Linked DNA regions of Homo sapiens. The protein of the gene in region 1 purifies or fractionates together with the protein of each later gene. This does not show direct contact. Each region holds a gene or a part of one and is shown in the gene's direction. Other genes may lie near its edges.

Region 1 (3,652 bases):
TGCTATCTCAGCTCACTGCACCTTCTGCCTCCCAGGTTCAAGCGATTCTCCTGCCTCTGCCTCCCAAGTAACTGGGATTACAGGTGCATGCAACCACGCCCAGCTAATTTTTAGAAACGGGGGTTTGTTTGTAGAGACAGGGTTTCGCTATCTTGGCCAGGCTGGTCTCGAACTCCTGACCTCAAGCAATTCGCCCACCTCAGCCTCATTTTGCAAGCATGAGCCACCGTGCCCAGCCCACTTTGAAGTTTAAGACATATTTTTTCCTTGAAAAATTCCATGAAGGAAAGGATTTATTTACTCCCTGTATCAAGTACTTTGCCTGGCACATAACAGGTGCTTAATAAATATATTTATGAATAAAATAAATGATATGGTTTGATGATATCCACGTTATCTATTTATAGTATGTAAGATAAAATGTGGAACACATTTTAGCTGTTCCTTTTATATTCCCCTAGTAAAACTTCTCTTATCTGAAAATGAAATGTTCATAATCTCAATCCATATGCTACTGTTTGCGATTTTGCTTCTAAGGGCTATGAAATTTTGTTCACGCCTGCATATAAAAATAAGTAGTGGAGGAGAATGGGAACATACAAAGGGTTAAATAATTTTTATTTACATGAAAATCTCCACTCCAGGTGTGGTTTACCCATTAAGTTTGTAGGTGAGCTACAGATAGTGTCAGCTATGTAGGACCTGACGCCTTCAGAGGAGTTTTTTTAGGAAGAGGAAAAAAAAAGGAATCTGATACCCACCTGCAGGGCTTCTGTTATCATTCATATCATTTCACTGTAATAAAAGCCACTTCAGCCTCCTAAAACTGGATGCTGACCCAGAAAGAGAGTGCTGCCAGCTGCGATAGGGCCTCAGAGTTGGCAGCTGCACGCAGGAGTCACAGGCCATACAGTGAGCAAATTTAGTTTGAAAGCACAGGTGCCTGTGTTTTTTGAGAATTGTTGGAATTCCGATTACAGAGCATGGTTGGGGGAGGGAAGTTGAATCAGTGTAATCCCTGCATCTGTCAAAATTATCAATTGTCCTATGGGTCACTTGAGCAATTGGATAAAATGAAGACCAGGGTGCTATACAAATAAGCAAAACCAGGAGGACCACTTTGAGATGCACCCACTTAGAAAGACTGTGTTTTCTTCTCTTTCAAGCACATTTTCTGTTCTGCCAGCTGTACTCCCTTGCATAACTATGTTTCGGGATCAACCGTTGCCATGGTTTCAGTTCAGACCAAAGACGTAAGAATAAACAATTCTGAAACGATCAAATACCACTGACTCTTGATTACATTAAGCCATGGTATAAGTTGGCCCCAAACCATTTGGGTTGTGTAAGGTGCTTTTGAATCCACGCCTGATACAGGCATCTTTAACAGTACAGAAATGTATGCTACACAATAATCAAATGCTTTGTAAAGGTCTGATTTAAGAGAATATGCTAAACAACCCAGTTTCCTCCAGCCCCCTAAGAATGGCGGTCTGGGGGTTGTACCTGCTTTGAGCTCTGCACTAGGCGGTTTCTATAGTTGTTTCATGTCATCCTCATAACCTTGGGAAGTAGCTGTCATTAATCCCATTTCACAGATTAAGCATCAAGAGCTTAAGTAATTTTCCTAGAGCCACAGATGGCAAGCCAGGAATTGAACCAAAGTTGGCCTAACTCCAGACAAAGCTCAGGCTCTTTCCGCTATGAAGTTCTGTCTCTCCAACCTCAGGGAATCCCTAGAATGGATTGAGGTTTCCAGAAAGCAGTAATTTTCCTTACACTCACTCATTCATTCATTCATTCAACAGCTAGTGAAACCAGCTACATGCCCAGCCCTGTAAAAGAAACTGGGGTGGAAAGACAGAAAAGTCATTCCTGCCCAAGAGAAGCTCTCAGGTTTAGGGAAGAGATATGAAAACAAATAACCACAAAGCAGTTTGAGAAGTACCAGTAATAGAGGGGAGGAACACAGAGGAGGGGACCGCTGGCTTTGCCTGGGGCTAGGAGGCAAGGAGCAGCTGGGGAGGAGGTGAACGATTCCACAGGAGAGGTGACATTTAAACCAAATGGTGGAGGATGAATGGGAGACAGAAAGACAAGTGTTCCAAAGAGAGAAAATGGCCTGGGCCAAAGAGCAACGGAGCGAGAAAGACACGGTGTGGAAGCAGCAGTGGTGGGCAGGGCGTGAGGACAGGTAAAGCCACAATGATGGGGGTGGGCCAGATCAAAATGGCTCTGCAATGAGGAGTTTGAACTTTATTCTGTCGTAACTGATGGATTTTCAATAAGGATGGGATGTGACCAAATGTAAAAAACACAACATTGACATTCAACAAATCCTCTGAGTTTTATCTAGGGAATTGTCTGAATTTAAATAAAATCTTACCATACTATTTGCACAATATTGACATGTAAGCCACGTCCACCTCTTCTCACACAAGGTGTCTTTTCTAGGTTAATTTTCTGCAAAAGAGAGCTTCCATCCTTCAGGAAGAACTGACTACATATCAAGGCAGAAGGTACAGCCCATAAGCAGGTGTCTTGTCTCCTGATTAGTTTGTGTTGTGTCACCTGTGAGCCTCCTTGTCTGGCCTTTGTCTTTATTAAAATGCTTGGATATAATACAAGTTTTGAAAAAGACTTGTTTTTAGTAAGTAGCATGTCTTTAAGAAGTCACCCCCCTTCTCATCCCAGTGCTTAGTCTGTACTATCAAAACAAGATGAGAGAATCTGCCGGGCACAGTGGCTCACTCCTGTAATCCCAGCACTTTGGGAGGCCAAGGCAGGAGGATCACCTGAGGTCAGGAGTTCAAGACCAGCCTGGCCAACTTGGTAAAACGTTGTCTCTACTAAAAATACAAAAATTAGCTAGGTATGGTGGCACACGCCTATAATCCCAGCTACTCAGGAGGCTGAGGCAGGAGAATTGCTTGAACCTGGGAGGTGGAGGTTGCAGTGAGCTGAGATCACACCACTGCATTCCAGCCTGGGCAGCAGAGTAAGACTCTGTCTCCAAAAAAAAAAACAAAAGAAAAAGAAAAAAGAAAGATGAAAGATGGAAGGATCTGCAGGGGCATGGCAGGTCCAGGCCTTACCTGGACAAGAGGACAAGATGTTGTCTTGAGGCCCAGTGATGGAGTGAAGGAGACACGATCTTCCTTTAAGATAGTGAGATGATGCAGTACTTGCTAGGATAGCTCACATCTTCAAAGTCCTTTCCCCCAAGGGTTTGGCATTGTTCTCCAGACCAGAATAGACCAACAGCTCAGTGATCCAGCACTCACAGTGACTTGAGTACCCTCAGTGCTCTTTTTGGGGATGCATGAGACCTTTTGTAGTCAAAGGTTCCCAGTGCCATCACTAACATAGATTGTGTTTACCTGCTGTAATTCCATCAAACGCCCTTCCTGTTTGTGCAGTGAAAGACTGAACTACTTATTTGGCTTTGAATTAAAAGGAAAGATCTTGTGAATCACACATTTTTCGAAAGATTCTGTTTGCTCGGTGTAGGTAAGATTTGATCCCTTATAGATAAGCATAAATTATGACATTTTGATATCAAATAGCCTTTTCAACCCCTATCAACTTCTCCAGAATTGAAGCTTATTTTTTGATTGACATACCTGTTAAACCTAGAGAAAGTCGTGACTGC
Region 2 (3,652 bases), on another chromosome or scaffold:
AAGAGCAACAAGTATTTAAACTTCATTTATTGAGTGATTTTTCATTTCCTCACTGTATTAGTCTGTTCTCATGTTGCTAATACAGACATACCCGAGACTAGGTAATTTAAAAAGGAAAGTTTTTTTTTTTTTTTTTTTTTGAGACGGAGTCTCGCTCTTGTCACCCAGGCTGGAGTGCAGTGGCGCGATCTCGGCTCACTGCAATGTCTGCCGCCTGGGTTCAAGCTTCTTATGCCTCAGCCTCCTGAGTGGCTGGGATTACAGGCACCTGCCACCATGCTTGGTTAATTTTTGTACTTTTAGTGAGATTGGGTTTTGCCGTGTTGGTCAGGCTGGTCTCGAACTCTTGATGTCAGGTGATCCACCCGCCTTGGTCTCCCAAATTGCTGGAATTACAGATGTAAGCCACTGCACCCTGCCAGGAAAGAGGTTTAATGGACTCTCAGTTCCACATGGCTGGGGAGACCTCACAATCATGGCAGAAGGCGAATGAGGAGCAAAATTATGTCTTACATGGCGACAGGCAAGAGAACTTGTGCAGGGGAACTCCAATTTATAAAACTATCAGATCCCATGAGACGCACTCACTACCACCAGAACAGTAGAGGGGAAACTGCGCCCATGATTCAGTTAAGTACACCTGGCCCCACCCTTGATACATGAAGATGATTGCAATTCAAGGTGAGATTTGAGTGGGGACACAGCCAAACCATATCACTCACTGTTTGGAAACGTTACTTTTAACATATATTAAATTCCCATATATAATTTAGACCCTGTTCTTGGGCTAGTACTATACAGTTTTCGTTATTATAGTTTTACAAGGCTACAATACTTTGTAAGAAACCTTGCAGGTCAGATGTGGTTTTGTTGTCAGGAATTTTTTCCAGTAATACTTAGTGGACATTATGTAGTATCCAGTAATCACACACATTGTTTTCTTAATGAAATATATGAAGTCACACTATGTGGGATACATATAAACAGTAAGTAAGCTCAGATCAGGTCAAGGTTTGCTGCTAGATGAGTTAAAAGGAAAATCTTATTTTCAGAGGTTTTTGGATTTTTGCAGTACAAATGAAGAATTATGGATTTGTAATTTATGTTGCTGTTGAGGGCTGTCTTCCTTCCTTGTTCATCTATTTTAAATTGTTTGGTTACTCTTGTATCTTTACTCTCCATTTGAATTTTAGAGTCAGCTTGTTGAGTTACTTGAAAAATCCTTCAACACCTGTGAAAGGAAGGGATCTATAGCTGGTTAGCAAAATCCTGTAGAGATTTTTCACTGGGATTGTGCTAAGTAGTTGGGGAAGAACTAAATCTTAGCAGTGTTTGTCTTCTCATCCATGAACACAGATAACTTTGTTTAGGTGTTCTTTCATGTCTTTCAGTAAAATGTTATAGTTTTTTTCCCCCAAAATTCTTGCACATTTCTGTTGATTTACATCAAAGTACTTTTATGGTTTTGTTGCTGTTGTGAATGGGATTTAAAATTTCCTTTAAATTAAAAACTGCATTTTCTAGTTGTTACTACTGATGTATACATTGATACTTATATATTGATATTGAGTTTGACCAGTTTGTTGAGTTCTGTTATTCTAATAACTTGTCAGTTGATTATCTTGGGTTTTCAGTTAGCAAGTCAGATATTCAGACATTGAGTTTAATCTTTTCCTTGTCAATCTTTATACTTCTTGTTTTTTTTTCTTTTTCTTTTTTGTAGACAGGGTCTTGCTATGTATCCCAGGTTGGTCTTGAACTCCTGGCCTCAAGCGATCTTCCTACCTTGGCCTCCCAGAGCGCTGGGATTATAGGCATGAGCCATTGCACTTGGCACTTTTTTTGTTTGTTTTCCAGTTGCATGGTATGTTTTCAGCGTTCAGTTTTGAGACATCTAAAATATCTCTAAAATATTGTTTACTATGAGTACATTATGCTGTAATCACATTCTGAATGCGTGAGTACATACATGGTAGAAGGGCTAGATCTTCTTTAAGTGGGGGTAATGGAAAGTCTCTGAGAAGGGAAATATTTATTATTGGAGGATTTAATGTGTGATCTTTTCATTACAGATATGGTGTAAGATACTTCTTCAAGATTGGACAGCTGGGGACCTTCTTCTGATTAACCTTAAACCAACTTGTAGCCATAGAGACACCTCACAAGGTTCCCATTTTTGTTGTTGTTGTTGTTGATTTTCTGCTCACACCTTTCCTGACCTTGCAACCATGTATGGAAGTGCCCGCTCTGTTGGGAAGGTGGAGCCGAGCAGCCAGAGCCCTGGGCGTTCACCCAGGCTTCCACGTTCCCCTCGCTTGGGTCACCGTCGAACCAACAGTACGGGAGGGAGTTCGGGAAGCAGTGTTGGAGGTGGCAGTGGGAAAACCCTTTCAATGGAAAATATACAATCTTTAAATGCTGCCTATGCCACCTCTGGCCCTATGTATCTAAGTGACCATGAAAATGTGGGTTCAGAAACACCTAAAAGCACCATGACACTTGGCCGTTCTGGGGGACGTCTGCCTTACGGTGTTCGGATGACTGCTATGGGTAGTAGCCCCAATATAGCTAGCAGTGGGGTTGCTAGTGACACCATAGCATTTGGAGAGCATCACCTCCCTCCTGTGAGTATGGCATCCACTGTACCTCACTCCCTTCGTCAGGCGAGAGATAACACAATCATGGATCTGCAGACACAGCTGAAGGAAGTATTAAGAGAAAATGATCTCTTGCGGAAGGATGTGGAAGTAAAGGAGAGCAAATTGAGTTCTTCAATGAATAGCATCAAGACCTTCTGGAGCCCAGAGCTGAAGAAGGAACGAGCCCTGAGAAAAGATGAAGCTTCCAAAATCACCATTTGGAAGGAACAGTACAGAGTTGTACAGGAGGAAAACCAGGTAAGTTCTACGTGTGTTTACCTTTATTGGCTGAATTCATGTATATAAATGAAATAGCCTTTTTTTCCCCTTTCCTAGATTTTTCCCTTCGTAGTATATGTATCTTCCTTTTTCCTATTGATTTTACTGTTTTGTGTCCTCCATTTCTCAGCCCTTTCCAAATTTGGTCCTGTACCCTGTTTTCTTCTAGCTGCCCATGTCTCCTTGCTCCCATTCTTGCTTGGTTCTTTTCTCTGGTTTCTCTTTCTCTTCGTGTCTTTCCTTTCAGCATATGTTATCTTTTTTTTTTTTTTCCAATTCTTCTGAGAGTATAATTTTGCCACACTCTCTAATATCTATTACCAAATGTATTTTAGAGTAGGTAACTTAAATGTAAGGTATACCATTAAGATTTGTCATAATGTCAAAAAGTCATTCTTAAAAACAAAACAAAATGACTATCACAGGATAAGTCAGTGTTGTCAGCTGAGAACAGAAATTACTTTTAAAAAGTTAATGTTGGCCGGGTGCAATGGCTCACACCTGTAATCCCAGCACTTGGGAGGCCGAGGTGGGCGGATCATTGAGGTCAGGAGTTCGAGACCAGCCTGGCGACGTGGTGAAACCCTGACTCTACTAAAAATACAAAAATTAGCCAGGTGTGATGGCGTGTGCCTGTAATCCCAGCTTCTAAGGAGGCTGAGGCAGGAGAATCACGTAAACCTGGGAGGCGGAGGTTGCAGTGAGCTGAGATCCCGCCACTGCACTCCAGTCTG

The links. Proteins that work in one complex are often made in the same cells at the same time.
Region 2: the proteins of CEP112 (region 1) and ERC1 purify together in Homo sapiens (affinity purification with mass spectrometry; one large-scale study listed by BioGRID and IntAct). This does not show direct contact.

The regions. Positions count from the first base shown.
Region 1 is NC_000017.11:65,635,991-65,639,642, reverse strand, and holds part of CEP112 (centrosomal protein of 112 kDa), read left to right. Parts: intron 1-2,454; coding exon 2,455-2,519; intron 2,520-3,652.
Region 2 is NC_000012.12:1,025,676-1,029,327, forward strand, and holds part of ERC1 (ELKS/Rab6-interacting/CAST family member 1), read left to right. Parts: intron 1-2,072; 5' UTR 2,073-2,228; coding exon 2,229-2,897; intron 2,898-3,652. UniProt on the Homo sapiens protein: Regulatory subunit of the IKK complex. Probably recruits IkappaBalpha/NFKBIA to the complex. May be involved in the organization of the cytomatrix at the nerve terminals active zone (CAZ) which regulates neurotransmitter release.